2 separate regions of the Homo sapiens genome follow, and region 2 is linked to region 1. Evidence: fine-mapped expression QTL. Tissue or cell type: cerebellar hemisphere. Region 1 holds a variant in brackets; the other region holds the start of a gene. All regions are shown on one strand. Distances are from middle to middle.

The links. PIP is the estimated chance that this variant, and not a neighbour inherited with it, causes the effect.
Region 2: PTGFRN starts here. The variant in region 1 is fine-mapped to the expression of PTGFRN in cerebellar hemisphere (GTEx, PIP 0.97).

The regions. Positions count from the first base shown.
Region 1 is chr1:116,967,259-116,975,442 of GRCh38, forward strand. PTGFRN (prostaglandin F2 receptor inhibitor) reads left to right here. Exons shown (of 9, transcript NM_020440.4): 6 at 1-72; 7 at 6,958-7,065. Among named protein-coding and RNA genes, the nearest start is that of CD101, 30 kb to the right of the region's middle. The variant G/A (reference allele first, on the strand shown) is at 4,795.
Region 2 is chr1:116,905,828-116,914,011 of GRCh38, forward strand. PTGFRN (prostaglandin F2 receptor inhibitor) reads left to right here and starts at 4,089. Exons shown (of 9, transcript NM_020440.4): 1 at 4,089-4,425. The coding sequence starts at 4,377.

The DNA.
Region 1 (8,184 bases):
TCAGGGGCAGCCTTTGGCGAGAAGCAGCAACCAGTCTCTCCAATCCTATTGAGATAGACTTCCAAACCTCAGGTGAGCAGTGAGCCCTGTTGAATCATAGGTGGAGCTAGAAGAGACCCTAGGGTTTTGATCAGATGCCCTCATTTTTTAAAACAGCTTTGTTAAGATGCAATTCATATGCCATACAATGTACCTGTTTAAAGTGTGTAATTCAGTGGCTTTTCATATATTCACAAAGTTGTGTGATCATCACCACGACCAGTTTTAGAACATTTTCATGACCCCAAAAGAAACCTGGACCCCTTAGCCAATACCCTCCATTCACACTCCATTCCCCACCTCCCATTCTGCAGCAACCATGATCTACTTTCTGTCTCTATACATTTTGCCTATTATGGACATTTCACATAAATGGAATATAATATGTGGCCTTTCTATCTGGCTTCTTTTTTGGAGCAAAATGTTTTCAAGGGTCATCCATATTGTAGCATGTATCAGTGCTTTGTTCATTTTTATGACTGAATAAGATTCCATCGTATGGATATCCCACATTGTGTTTATCCATTCATCAGTTGATGGACATTTGGGTGTTTCCAGTTCTTGACTGTTACAAATAATGCTGCTGTGGACATTCATGTACAAATTTTTGATGAATGTATGTTTTCATTTCTGCTTTCATTTTAAGAAAATGAGCTGAAGCTCAGCTACTTCAAATACTTTAGGGAACATAGTGGAGTATAAAGAAAGAGAGGAGGGAATTGAGCCTCCCAAGGTGTTAAATGACTTGCCAAAGTGGAAGATCTTTAACATCCTCTGTCTGTGTATGTGTGTGTTTCAGTAGGAAGATGATTTAAAAGTATTTAAACCCCAATCTTATTTAGAATATGAATGCAAAGGATTATCATTTGTGAGTTTAATACTAAGTGTTTTCACTAACTCTGCCCTGGGTTCCTGGGTTTTAGTTAGAAATTTCTGAATGTATAAATTAATACTTATCTGTAAAAATTCAGGTGTCAATTGAATCATACAATGAATGCAAGATATTTGTTGAATTAAATGATTAGCATTTATATTAAAGGTAAGCTAGACTCTAATAAAGTTTTTCTATTAATATTATTTTCTATTATTATAGCCTTTTATGGTATATAATATATACCATAGTGAAATAATCTTCTAAGATCTCTTGACCTTTAAATTAAAGGGTAAATATTGATTTAAGCCCTTAGATTTGGAGAAAGCATAGGCCTCCTTTATTGTGTATCTGTTTGTTTTTAATAGCAGCTTTATTGAGATATAACTCACATACTATAAAATTTACTATATATAGAGTGTACAATTTAGTGGTTTCTAGTATATTCACAGAGTTGTGCAACTATCACTACTATCTAATTCCAGAACATTTTAATCACCTCAAGAAGAAACTCCACTCTCATTAGTAATCATTCCCATGCCCCCATGCCCTTGCCCCTGGCAACCACTAATTTACTTTCTGTCTCTATAGATTTGCCTCTTCTGGGTGTTTCATATGAATTGAATCATATTATATGTGGACTTTTGTGACTTGCTTTTTTTCACTTAGCATAATGTTTTCAAGGTCCATTCATGTTGTAGCAGGTATCAGTACTTCATTCCTTTTCATGGCTGAATAATATTTCATTGTATGGATATGCCACATTTGTTTATCTGTTCATCTGTTGATGGACGTTTAGACTATCTCTACTTTTTGGCTATTATGAATAGTGCTGCCGTAAACATTATTATTTGAAAGTATCTTCTCGCATTCTGTGTGTTGTCTTTCACTTTCTTAATGATGTCTCTTGAAACATCAAATTTTTAAATTTTGATGAAGTCCAGTTTATCTGTTTTTTTTTTTTTTCCTTTTGTTGCTTGTGTTTTTGCTATGTCTAAGAAATCACTGCCTAATCTAAGGCTGTGAGGATTTACACCTATGTTTTCTTCTAAGAGTTTTATAGTTTTAGGTCTTACATTTTAGGCTATGATTCATGTTAATTTTTGTATGTGGTTAAGAAGAAGGAATCCAACTTTATTATGTTGCATGGAGATAGCCAGTTGTCCTAGCACCATTTATTGAAAAGTGTATTATTTCTCCATTGACTTGTTTTGGCACCCCTGTCAAAAATAATTTAATCATAAATGTAGGGTTTATTTCTAGACTGTCAATTCTATTTCAGTGATCTAGATTTCTCTTCTTATACCAATATCACATGGTTTGATTACTGTAGCTTTGTAGTTAGTTTTGAAATCAAGAAGTTGGAGATTTCCAATTTTGTTCTTTTTCAAGATTGTTTTGACTATTTTGGATGCCTGGTACATCCATGTGACTTTTAGGATCCGCCTGTTAATTTCTACAGTCCAGGCATCTGGGACTTTGATGGGGATTGTGTTAACTCTGTAGATCAATTTGGAAAGCATTGCCATTTAACAATACTGTTTTTCAGTTCATAAACATGGGCTATCTTTCCATTTATTTAGGTATTTAAATTTTTTCCATGGTGTTTCGTAGTTTTCAGTGTACAGATCTTGTTTCTTTTGTTAAATTTATCGTAAGTATTTTATTCTTTTTGATGCTATTGTAAATAGAATTGCTTTCTGAATTTACTTTTTGGCTTGTTTATTCATTGCAGTTTCATAGAAGTACAACTGGGTTTTGTATATTGATCTTGTATCCTGTGACCTTGCTGAACTTGTTTATTAATTCTAATTAATTCTAAATTTGGGGGACTTGTTACAATTTTTAAAATACAAGATTATGTCATCTGTGAATAGAACTAGTTTTACTTCTCTCTTCCAAGCTGAATATCTTCTATTTCTTTTTCTCGAGTAATTGCCCAGCCAGAACCTCCAATACAGTGTTGAATGGAAGTAGCACAAGTGGACATTCTTGTCTTGTTTCTGATCATAGGGGGAAAGCGTTCAGTCTCATTCACCTTTAACTATCATGTTCACTGTGGGATTTTCATAGATGCCCTTTATCAGATTGAGGAAGTTTCCTTCCACTCCTAGTGTGTTTCCTTCCATTCTTAGTTTTTTTTTCATTCCTAGTTTGTTGAGTATTTTTGTCATGGAAAGGTGTTGAATGTGGTCAGATGCTTTTTCTCTGTCTGTTGAGATGAGATTATTATGTGGTTTTTGTCCTTTATTTGTGTATTTGTTTTGCTGTCTGTAGGAATCTGTTCCATCTTGTTTTACATTTGTTATTTGATCTTTCTTTTAAACTCTTATATGGAAAAGGGGAGACACAGAGTATTTTGTATCTATTTCTGGGTGAGGAATGGATGTTGAGTCTATTCCTCAGTTCTTTAAATCTCAGCATAACAGATAAAACCGCTGTAGCTTCCAGGTTGAATAGATTGCCTAAGGTTTTATTTTATTTAATCCACAGAGTTGTCATGGCCAGTTCACATTTTAATTAGGAGAAGCTGCCATCAAATTCAGCACCCAGAACAATACTATAGCCCTGAATAGCCACCAGCAAACATTGATTTGAAACTGAACAGCCTTTGCTTCCTAAAAATCCGTGACATACCTTAAGACACGCAACAAAGGGGTTCTTCCCATGTTCACCTTCCTGTCCCCTGATTTCAGGGCACCTGCTTTTTGGTATTAAAAACCAAGGGGCCCTACTGAGTGCTGGGTTTTACTGATTCAAAGTGTCAAGAGGAAAATGGTATTTAAATATGATAGTGTAGGCTTTGGCCTTTTAAAAGAAGAATAATAAATTTTTTTCTTCGTAATATATAGAAAATTTGAAAATATAGTAATGTAGAAAGAAGGGAAAGAGACTTATCCATCATCCTACCAGAGACTGTTAACTTGTGTTGTTCATCTTCCTAGAATGTTTTTCTTGTATATTTTCTTCATGACTTTGAGATCAAGCTGTACATACAATTTTAGGACCTGCTTTTCTCCCTTTAGTGTTATAAGATCAGCACTTTCCATATTGTCACCAATTCTAGGTAAACATTAATACCACGTTTAATGACTTTACATACTTGAATTTGCTTAGCCATTACCCTATTGATGGACATGCAGATGGTCTGTAACTTTTGCTTTCATTAAAAAAACTGCCACTAACAGCTTTTTTTAGAGGCCAAGGTTGGAACATGGTTTATGTCAATGTTTGTATTTAAAAGTTAAGTAGTTCCTATACTCTCTGCAGACTAGGAATTGGGGGACCCCTAGTGACTCCGGTTGTTCATTTAAACTCTCTGTACCATACCCTGTCATCTGTGAAGTTAACCAGACAAATCCCCTCACAAAAACAGAATTACCACAGAAATTGACCATAATGAAAATATTTCTAAGCCTGGGATAATGACCCATATTAACAGTGAGCTGCTGATTTCATTAGGAGGAAATCCACTCCTGTGAATAGCTCACCACAATGCAGGCCTTTTCCCCAGTCCTTGTCTGCCTTGTGAGCTGCAGCACAAATGCTCTGTTGATTCCCACGTCCAGTAGGGGAAGTGAGAACTGTAACGTGACCTAGGAGGTATTTGGGTTTTCTTTGGAAACATAAAGAAAAAGTGAAATTTGTTCGAATTAAGTAAGTCTTCTTTGCTGCTTCAAATTAAATAGATAATCCATGAGATAAAACCATGAGAATTTCTTAATGTTTTGTCATTTTATGTTCTCTTAGAAGGGGCCTGAGCACTAGAAAAGCCCCTCAGTGTAGTTCTGTGTATTACCATGAAATTTCTAATCTGAGAAAAATGTGACCCCCCTGCCCGCCCTTGCTCACCATGGTTGCTGCTAACCTGTACTCACTGACAG[G/A]TGGCCGCCTATGGCATAAGTGTCCCCAGTCACCACACAGAGCCAACTCCAGGCAGTTTGGCCTAATCCTGCCCCACCTCACTGCTCCAGGCAGAGCAAGTCCAGGGTATAAGGCCCGAGGGAGCCAGGGCTGAGAGCTGAGTTAATTGAAGGGGATGATGTCCAGAAGTAGGTCAGGCTTCCTTGTCTTTGCTTTCATCCCTTTCCCCATTTCCTGGAACAGCCATTCTGTCAATTCTTTATCCCCTTAGAGTTACGTACGCCCCTGCTGTTCCCTGAATAATCAGAACTCTCAGCAGTTTCTACCCAGAGCTGCCTAACCCCCACTAGGGTTCAATATTCTATAACCATCCTTTACCTTTCTCCCAGGAAAACAAAAAATATTTATATACTTGGTTAGGAAAGCAATCTGATGAATTCATCTTATTAGTCATCATGTCAAAATGAAAATATAGCCCTTTCATCATGTTACTCCCTCTGTCATGGCCATTTCTTCTGCAAGTTTAAAAAAGATACTTTAGGATACTTGTTTCTTTCTGGCAATCTGAACAAGAAGTAGTAATACCTATATTCTTAACTTCTAATGAGTTTTACAGTCAGCACCTAGGGCCTTCAATCGTTGCTTCCCAGGAAACCCAAGGGGAGTCCCATAGCATTGATGTTCTGTGAATTTCTTTTAGGTTTGCCTTGTTCCTAGATTTTAGGAGTTGGGATAAAGTAAACATTGAACTCTTAGGATTAGCTAAGCTGAAAGCTATGGAATGTTCTCACCTAAGAGGAATTCATAAGTGAGTTAAAAATAATAATTCTGCCTGCAGCGTTTTCAGGGAGGCATGTAAGACAAACCCAGTTTGGGTAGGGTTTTTTTGTTTTGTTTTTTAACCAGACTTTATTTTAATTTTATTTATTTATTTATTTATTGAGACAGTGGCACGATCTTGACTCACTGTAGCCCCAACTTCCCAGGCTCAAGCAATCTTCCTCCTACCTCAGTCACCTGAGTAGCTGGGACTACAGGTGTGCACCACCGTGCTCAGCTAATTTTTGTAGAGGCGGGATTTTGCCATGTTCCCCAGGTTAGTCTTGAACACCTGGGCTCAAGTGACCTACCTGCCTCGGCCTCCCAAAGAGCTGGGATTACAGGCATGAGTTACTGCATCCAGCCCAGACTTTATTTTTTAGAGCAGTTTTAGGTTCCCAGCTTTTCAGCAAAAAGTACTGAAAGTTTCCATATACTCCCAACTCTCCCACAACACATAGCCTCCCCAACCTCAGTAGTCTCTTAAAGGCATATCCACCTGTAATCTCAGCACTTTGGGAGGCGGGCAGATCACTTGAGGTCAGGGGTTCGAGACCAGGCTGGCCAACATGGTGAAACCCTGTCTCTACTAAAAATACAAAAATTTGCGGGGCGTAGTGGCATGTGCCTGTAATCCCAGCTACCCAGGAGGCTGAAGCAGGAGAATCACTTGAATCCAGGAAGTGGAGGTTGCAGTGAGCCGAGATCACACTACTGCACTCCAGCCTGCGTGACAGAGCAAGACTCAATCTCAAAAAAAAAAAAAAAAAAAGGAAAAAGGCATATCCAGGCTGCCTCCATTTTCCCTGGCATGCTGAAGCTGTGCCTTGAGTGCTACCACCACACCTCATAGAAATATCATTGTTGACATGTCTGTCTTCTTACCAGATTTCAGCCTCTTGGTAACAGGGCCCCTTTCCCCAGCACCCAGCACAGTGCAGTGAGACCACTCACTCCACTGGAACCAAAAGCTTTCTTGCTTCAGTCCCTGTTCCTCTGATCCCTAAGCCACCCTGGCCTAGAAGTGAACCATGTTGAACTAGAACCAGCCCAGGCTGTTCCAGGGTGGAGGGTAGCTTTCGAATGAGGTCACTGTGGCCACCAGAAAGAAAAGCCAGAGCAAAAGTAATTCTTTCAGAAGAGTTCTATTTTGGTTGTAATCTTAAGATGAAGCTCACTTGGATGTGCCTAATGCCCATGTCTCTCTGAATAGAAGAGAGGCAACCTTGGAACACCTATTTTGTGAGTTTCTAGACCAGTTCCCAGGGAAGAGAACCACATTTTGATGCCCCTTAGAGTGCAAAGAATGGAATTTGACAAAAGCATGAAAGAGAATAATGAGGCTGGCATTACTTTTTTTCCAGGTCCTATATTTAATGCTTCTGTGCATTCAGACACACCATCAGTAATTCGGGGAGATCTGATCAAATTGTTCTGTATCATCACTGTCGAGGGAGCAGCACTGGATCCAGGTACCTCACTCCATCCTCACCCCTTCACCATGTTGCTTTCTGTAAATGTTTCTCATATCATCCGCACTGTGTTACACAGATGTGGGTTAGGGATAGGATTATCTATTTATCCCCTAACTGCCTGGCCCAGTACTTTGTACTCATTAAGTGTTTAATAAATACATGTTGAGTGGATGCATCTATCTGCTAGATGGTTTGGAAATACATCCAGACATTTGAATCTGAGCTGTCAAGACAGTCAGTGGGGTCACTTCCAGGCCTATTTCAGGCTGATTTGAAACCCACTGGCAGAGTCTAGCTCCTTCTCTTGTGTCTTTCATTCATTTATTCATTCAGATATTTATTGAGTTCCTTTGGTATACAAGTGCTGCTCTAGATACTGGGAATAGATGAGTGAACAAAATGCCCAAAGTCAGGGGGCAGTTCCAAGATGGCCAAATAGGAACAGCTCCAGTCTACAGCTCCCAGCGTGAGCGATGCAGAAGACGGGTGATTTCTGCATTTCCAACTGAGGTATCGGGTTCATCTCACTGGGGCTTGTTGGGCAGTGGGTGCAGGACAGTAGGTACAGCCCACCGAGCGTGAGCCGAAGCAGGGCAAGGCATCAACTCACCCGGGAAGCGCAAGGGGTTAGGGAATTCCCTTTCCTAGCCAAGGGAAGCTGTGACAGACAGCACCTGGAAAATTGGGTCACTCCCACCCTAATACTGCGCTTTTCCTATGGTCTTAGCAAACGGCACACCAGGAGATTATATCCTGCACCTGGCTCGGAGGGTCCCATGCCCACAGAGCCTCGCTCATTGCTAGCACGGCAGTCTGAGATCGAACTGCAAGGTGGCAGCGAGGCTGGGGGAGGGGCACCCGCCATTGCTGAGGCTTAAGTAGGTAAACAGAGCTGCAGGGAAGCTCGAACTGGGTGGAGCCCACTGCAGCTCAAGGAGGCCTGCCTGCCTCTGTAGACTCCAACTCTGGGGGCAGGGCATAGCCAAACAAAAGGCAGCAGAAACCTCTGCAGACTTAAATGTCCCTGTCTGACAGCTTTGAAGAGAGTAGTGCTTCTCCCAGCATGCAGCTTGAGATCTGAGAACGGACAGACTGCCTCCCCAAGTGGGTCCCTGA
Region 2 (8,184 bases), 61 kb before region 1:
TGTGGTTTCCATCTCCTCCCCGTCCTTCACTGTATTCCAGGTTTTTCATGCATTAAATTAGATGATAAGCCCCTCCAGGGCAAGGGCCCTGTCTGCTCGTAACATAGGAAATAGCCTCAGTCTTGGGGAGAGCTTTTATTGCCAAAGGCTCACCTCCATCCAATTCCTTATTTTCTCCTCACACTTCTCCACCCCAGTGTTCCTGCAGGCGTGATGCTATGTGGGGTAGCTTCCCAGGGAGGCACTTTTGGCCTGGTGGAGGTGGAATCTGGAACAGTTCTAAGTCATTTAAGAACACTTTCTCCACCATGTCCCACTTCAGTCTTTTAGGGCTGAAGAAAAGATGGGGAGAATTGATAGTTGGGTGGTGACGAGCAGGACCAGCCCTCAGGCAGGACCCTGCTTAGCCCATACCAAACAGATGAGGTCCCTTGCTGTTTTCAAACTTGTCACATGAGCATTCTACAGCTTCCCCACTAATCTCACCAGTATTGCAGGACTCTCACTCGTGGGGAAATAAAGGCCTCCTCTTCCCACCCCTCCCTTTCTAACTTTTAATTTCATTTTCTAATTCTATAATATAATCCTAAATTTCTTTTTGTTTAGTAATCTCTGTTTAACTTTAACTGGGAAAATATACATCTGGACACAGAACAAGGAAGACTGTGAGTGAAAATGATTAGTGGAATGAAACGGTGCCATGGAATATACTCCTTCCCCTGAGCCCCTGCTGAAGTAGGTAGGGGTCAGGGTCATTTGGAGACTGTGTGCGTGTACAGGCTGCCAGAGGTGGCAGGGCCAACAACTCCAAGTCTAGGTGAGTCTTAGAACAATCAGCAATTTCATTCACTGGGAACCTTTTAACATTTTCATTCACAAAGTTAAATAACATGATGATGTTTTTGCCTGATCTCAGCAGGGAAAACTTGTTTGGCGTAACAGTATGAGGACTCTTGTGAGGTTTTAGGGGTATCACCTGCAGAAAGACATGTGTGACCAAAAGACCATAATGTCGGACTGCTGTGACCAGTGCCCCTTGGGGGCACTATGATTGGAGAAAAGAAACCCATGTCGGTACTCTCCTTGGGGGTGGGCGTGAATCAATTAGAATTGCTGGAGAGTGAGTCTTCCTGCCCCAGGCAAGCCTATAGACTAAGATAGGAGAACAACTGGTTGGGGCAAAAGCCTTACCTGTATAGAAGGTTACTCACTCTGGTAAATAAATATCTTTCATAGTAAAAGCATCATCAGATTCCAGAGTCATGAATTAACAAATTGTGCCAGTCTGCTGTGTTTCTTCCTTTATCCATTGGTAGTCAGGAAGGTGCAAAGGGTGTGGTGGTTATAACCAACAGTCTAGACTTATTAATTTATGCTTATTTTTTGCTACAAAAGTGGCTCTTTGGTTAACTCCCATGACATTTAACTGCCAGCCACCAGCAGGCTACCCACTTCAGTCCTCATTCTACCTGCCTTACCTAGACAATTTTATTTATTCTCATCATTTCAATGGTTAACCACTGTTATTTCCATGATTGTAAGATACACCATTAATTTAATAATACCTGGGGGTGGGTGAGGTGAGAAGAATCTCTATCATATTAAATACACAACATCTATTGTAAGCTTATCCTTACACTCCACAGCTAAAGACCTACCAATTTTTCAAGACTCGTTGCATAGTCATCCCCTCTGTGAAGCTTTCTCTGACAGCCTCCTCCTGGACTGGCCGCTCCCTTGTGGTGTCACAACTCTACCTTGCATATGCAATCACAATGCACAAAATGTCGACTCCTCAAGGGCAAGAACTGTCTGCTTCATCCCTGTACCCCCAGGATCTAGCCCAGTGTCTGCCATTAATTCACTCTATAAATATACATTGGGACCTACCATGTGCTAGGCACAGTCCCTGACACACATTGTTTATTAAACAAAAGAATTTTTAAAACATCTACTCTGCCATAAGGTGGGATACAAGGTGAAAATGTGACAGCCTCTTAGGCCCATGCATTATTAGACAGAGATGGGGGTAGTGTATACATTTTGCTAAACTGAATGTGACCAAGTGCCACAATGTGTGGTTCAAACATTAAGCGTTCTGGGTGGTTAAGAAAAGGAAAGATGGAGGATGAGCTGAAATCTGAGCTTCTGAAGGTGCCAGGCCTCACATTTCTCTGAAGCTCCACTACCTTCCAAGGCCTAACATTAGGCTTGAATTCAAGGTTGATTGAATGAAATTGGGAAACTTCCCTGCGAGATTCTAGGGAAGAATTGGGATGGGGAAGAGAAAGGAATTACAGTGTGTATGAACAGAACCAGGAAAGGCTTGGCGGCAGAAATAAATTTTAAAAAAATTATTGTGTAAAATGTACATAGCACAAAATTTACCATTTTAACCTTAAAAATTTTTTTTTAGAGACGGTGTCTCACAATGTTGCCCGAGTGGTCTCAAACTTCTAGCCTCAAATAAAAAAAAAAAAGAAAGAAAAAAGAAAAAGAAGAAAAAGTGCCAGCCCAGTGGCTCAGACCTGTAATCCCAGTCTTTGGGGAGGCCGAGGCGGGAGAATCGCTTGAGCCCAGGAGCTCGAGACCCGCCTGGCCAACATAGGGAGACTCCAGTGTCTACAAAAAATAAAAACAATTAGCGAGAGTGTGGTGGCACACATCTGTGGTTCCAGCTACTTGAGAGGTGGAGGTGGGAGGATTGCTTGAGCCTGGGAGGTCAAGGCAGCAGTGATCCCTGATCGCACCACTGCACTCCGGCCTGGGTGACAGATCCTCATTTTGAGACCCTGTCTCAAAAATGAAAGAAAGAAAGAAGACAAAACAAATAAAAACTCCTGGCCTCAAGCAACACCATCCCTGCCCCCCGCCTCCCCCTGCCCCCCCAACCTCAGCCTTCTGAGTAGCTAGCATTACAAGTACCAGTTACCAGGCCTGGCAATTTTAAACATTTCTAAGTGTACCATTCAGTGGCATTAAGTACAATAACGTTGCACCACCAGGAATGAATTTTTAAGTCTCTTTCCAAAGATACCTGGCTAATCACACATTTGATAGTGGGGAAATAAGAAACATTTGTTGGTTGAAAGACGGATGCATGAGAGTAAAAGCAGTGTTCTTCCCCAGTGTGGGCAGTTTCCGCATAAGCATCTGCGATCCGTTTTGCATGTGAATGAAAGCCCAGTGACGGGCAGTGGGCACCAGTGCTGCTCCTTGCGTGTTTGAATCATGCTTGCTAAGTTTCAAGCAAGGAATGCTCCATTTCTCCCAACCAAGTCGGGCCTTTTGTATTCAAATCAAAAGCACAAAACTCTATTGTAGGGGGAAAAATGAGTCTTTATTGGCAATCAGTGGTGTCCACTTAGAGCAATAAATATTAAGTCTTAAGAGTACATTCTATATGAAGTACTATAGCTATTAATACACTTGGGTTTTGTTTGTTTTTTAAATGGGTGTCTTTGTGGGGTGCTGTTCTAATCAGTGCCACAGGCGCCGAGGAGAGGGAGGGAGCTGGGTAAGGAAGGAGACAGGCCCACCCTAGCCACCGGGGAGTGGGCAGAGTCAGGAGAGCGGGGTTCTGATTTTGCCCCTTCCCTGTGAATCCTTGGGCACCTCACCGAAACACTTAAGGCCTCTGTATGGTAGAGGTTGGAATCCGTGGCCTTTAAAAGTCCTTTCAGCTCCTTCGCTCCTATCTGCATAATTTTTGGCATAGGCCAAGCGGCTGGTTGGTGGGGTGTTTAGCTCAGGACGAGAGGCCGAACGAGCGGGGAGTTGGCTGAGGATAGACTAGACACGCGTGGGTGACTCCAGCGTGATGGAACGCGGGGTGTCCCGGGATAGGGCTAAAGCGATGGGATTTCCAGACGAGTCTTTCCCAGGCCAACTTTTAAAGGTCGGAGGAAAGTTTCTCGTGGGGTGGGGGCCCAGAGGGGATGGCAGGGTGGGCTCCGACGCCTCCTCGCCTTTAAGCGGGTGGCCCCGGCTCTTCCTCCGTTACCTGGAGCGGGGAGGGGCTTGGGAAAGTTTGTGTTTGTTGCTGGCAAAGCGCCGGATGGGAGGCGCGGGCGGGCGCTGCGGTTCTTCCCTTCTGCTTTCGGGAAGCGGTCGGGGCTGCACACTCGGATCGGCGGGGCCGGCTCCCGGGCCCGGCCGGCTGGAGGAGGGAGGGAAGGAGGCGGGAGGGAGCGAGCGGAGCCAGGGGCGCACGTACGCCCCAGCGCTGGGATTTATCGGCTCGCGAGGAGAGCGGAGCAGGCGCGCGGCCCAGGCGGAGGAGCGCCGACTCTGGAGCAGCCGGAGCTGGAAGAGGAGGAGGAGGAGAGGCGGCGGGGAAGGAGGAGGAGGGGGAGAGTCGCTCCCGCCGGGCGAGCATGGGGCGCCTGGCCTCGAGGCCGCTGCTGCTGGCGCTCCTGTCGTTGGGTGAGTGTGCGCGGGGCTCAGCGGGGCACACGGGGACTGGCGAGGCCCTGGAGGGCTCGGCGGGGCGCGGCTGCAGCGCGCGGCCTGGGGCGCCGAGGGTGCCCGGGCTGCTCCCGGGAAACCCGGCCGGGGTGCGCGGGTTGTTCGGCCCGGCGGGGAGCGGCCGCGGGGCCGCCCGGAGCCTGGCGCGAATCCGCTCGGGCCCCGCGCGCGGGGTGCAAGTGGCCGCTCCGCCAGGCCGAGCCTCGCCCCCAACATGTGCCGGGGGGAGTGGCCCGGGGCCGTCTTTCCCCCAGGTCTCCCTACCTGTTGGCCGCCGGGAGCCCGGCTCACCTTGAACTCCCGGCCCGGAAGGTGCTGCGGTCCCGGCCCGGGTCCTCGGCTCGAGAGCGGAAATGTGAGCCTTTGATATGCCCCGCCATAGCCGCCGCCGGCCGGGTCGCTCTTCACCCAACCCGCGCGGAGTTGCCTTTCCAGGGAAGCGAGAGAATCCTCCAACTTCCTTCCACGAAGGTCACAGGGTGGCCCGGAGCGTTACAATGGAAATCGGCGGGCGAGTCCTGCCGTCATTTTCGTCGTGGCTAGATCTTCTGCCTCAGTCTTTTCTTTTAGCTTTTCTTGAAGCTGCCTAGCTGCGTATTTATACACAAAGACCTAAAAGCCTGGCTTCTCCAACTTTTTCTACCTGTTACTTTCCCTCCCTTACTATCCCCTCGTCTTCCACCCTCCGGAAACCCTGGGTGCCCCGTGAGGTTTTGGCCCAGCGCCCTCCCCCCACCCAAGGAATCTTTTGTGGGTTTTTTCCCTCTCCATTTTCCATTCACTCCATACACAGACACCATCTTCACGTAGATCCACATGGTGATCCTAGCCAGCCACGGAAATATGTTTATTAAGTGCCCACCATGGTACCCCAGGGCCGACTCTTAAATGTTTTGATATTCTTGGATCCTTGTTGTCAGTGTCAACCAGGACAAGATGATTCCTGTGACCTGGCCTGGGGTTCTCTTCCAAGCCCCTAGAGAAGGCGGCTCTGAGTCTTTCACAGAGCGCATGATGTGCGGTGTCCGTGCCATTCAGGTCCCAGCTGCACACAGGGCAAATGATTACTCTGCACTTATGGTCAGAGGGTTCCAGAGGAGGCCTTCTATAGCTACTCCCCTGCTGGGGACACCGGGGCCCACACTGCTGTAACCCCCATGACTCCTGCTGCTGATGAACCAGCCTTGCTGGCTGCTGTGTTTTCTTCCTTCACCTTGAAGGGATTTTCTGAACTGACTCCCTCAGAGAGCTCGTCCAGCCACATTGCTTCAGCTTCAGCCCATGTGCAGAAAGCTTCCAGATCTTCCACTTAGTTTTATGGCATCTTTTCTATAGTCCCTGATCCTAGTGCTTTATTTTTATTTTTGAAACAAAGCCTCAGTCTTTCACCCAGTCTGGAGTGCAATGGCACAACCACAGCTCACTGAAGCCTCAAACTCCTGGGCTCAAGTCATTCTCCCACCTCAGTCTCCTGAAGTGCTGGAATTACAGGCATGCTCCACCACACCCGGTGGTAGTGCTTTTAATCTTTACTTTTCACTCTGGGACCCTTGTAAGTTGTATGTTAGTGGCGCACTGCTGTTATAGTCCACACACATTAATTGACTTTATGTGTCTGGGTCAAGCAGGGCCATGGCCTAGGTTTGCACAGATGGTGCACTGTACAACTTCGGGAGCTGCTGTTCACTTTGTAGTCTGTGTGAATAACTCCCCCTAGAGCTGTGCAGTTCTCTGAACAACCTGGGTACCAGTTATGAGGGTGGGATGAGGTAGAACTTTGAAAACAATGCCCTTGAGTAATAATGAAGGGAGAAGAGGGGAGGGGGCAAAGAGAGACTGACAAAAACAAAATAGAAGTGGGGAAAGCACAGCTTGGGGAAATCTTGATTGTACTCCAGCATATCCTGTCCTGGCTGGATGCCTCCTATGAATTACACAGGGAATTTCTGTGGTGTCACCAGCCAGTACCTTTTCACCTAACAGTTCTCTGAACCATTGATGACCCTCCTGATAACTCTGCTGTCACAGAATCTCACTCGGTGTGGCTTCAGCCTGACCTCTGGGAAGGTCTCGCTGTGTTACACTGCTCTGGCACTGTACTGATCCCTGAAATGTAATATGTTGATAAACAAGATCATCTTTCCTCCTGGGGTGTAACCTGGGTATAATCGTGGTATCGCTGCTCTTTTTGACCTCCATATTCACGTAGTCTCTCAATTCTTGGCTCTCCCCGTACCACAGACTCCAGCTTCTTTCTTTCCTTCCTGTTTCTACGGCTACTGTCTTAGCCCAGGTCCTGATTGTTTCCCACACAGTTGGTGTCTTCCTGGTTGATTATTTCCTCCAGCCTCCCTTTTAAGCTCATCCTTTTCCTAAATGATCATTTTTGGGGCTCCCACCTGTTCTCACTGTGTCCTTATGAGTTTCCTCCAAGGAGATGTTGCCCCTTGTGTGTCCCTCCCCTCTGGTCTTCTCTGGCTCAGACACTTCGTTCCAACTAACCTGTTTGCTCTCCTTTATGTAGACTATATTAAACCTTCTGGCCCCTTCTACTTCTCACCTCTTGCCTGCGTATTAATATTTCCTTTTTCCCTTGAAACTCACTTTCTCCATGAAGCCTTCCTAAGCCTACCTACCATGATCACACCAGAACCCACCCAGCCACATAGAGCAGGTTTCACATCCATTGCCTATGTCTGACCTGTCTTGCCCATCCACTCAATGTGGCATTTCTTGAGTGGCCACTCTGTGTGCAACTGTGTGTTCAATACTGGGAGTCCCAGACAAATGACAAAGACACAGCATCTCCCTGAGCGGCTGGTGGGTGTGAGTAGACAGAGAATAAAATAGCTAACCACAGGACTGAATGAAATACCTGACATGGAAACCAAGTGTGGGAAACAAGGAAGGGGATGATTAATTTTGACTTGGGGGTTGGGGCTGGTTTTGCTGAAGAAGTGACATTTGAGTTGAGCCTTGAGGATAATTAGAATTTTGAAAGAAAGGATAGAAGAGCATTCTGGGCTCTGGGGAAAAGCCTAAAGTGTGGATGAGTGAAAGTACATGGCTCATTGAGAAATGGCACGTAAGTTCCCTGTAGCTGGAGCTGGGAGGAGGAGGAAATAATGGGGGTGCAATTATTTGGGGGAGGAGGAAATAATGGGGGAGGAAAGGTGGGTTTGGGATAGATCCTGTAGGTTTTGCATGCTGTGCTAAGGAGTCTGGACTGGGAGGGGTAGATTTGTTGGTGCTCTGGGTGCTGCCAGCCAGTCTGTGCCCTGTCATCAGAGCATATATTTCCTTCATTGTATGTAATTGTTCCCTACTCTGATTGTTTCCCCTGGGGGCAGGGGCCACGTTGATTTTGTTCACTACAATGTCCCTATTACGAATAGGATATATAACTCATACTGGTTGTTTGATACATATTGGCTGACTGAATACTTACATATGTCATTTTATCTGTGGGAATGGGTAGCCATTAAAAGTTTGTAGGGCGAGATTAACAGGACAGGGTAATGTGTTGAGGAGGATAAACCCTCAACTAGTGCAACATAAATTGGAGAGTAGAAGGCATGGAGATTGTAGGGTGGGATTAACACATTCTCTTTATGTCTTTATTTTTGCAAATCTATTGAGATACTTTTTTAAGTGTCAAAAGCATTACATCTGTATTTTAAAATTCAAATGATATAAAAGGACTTTGTATTAATCAGG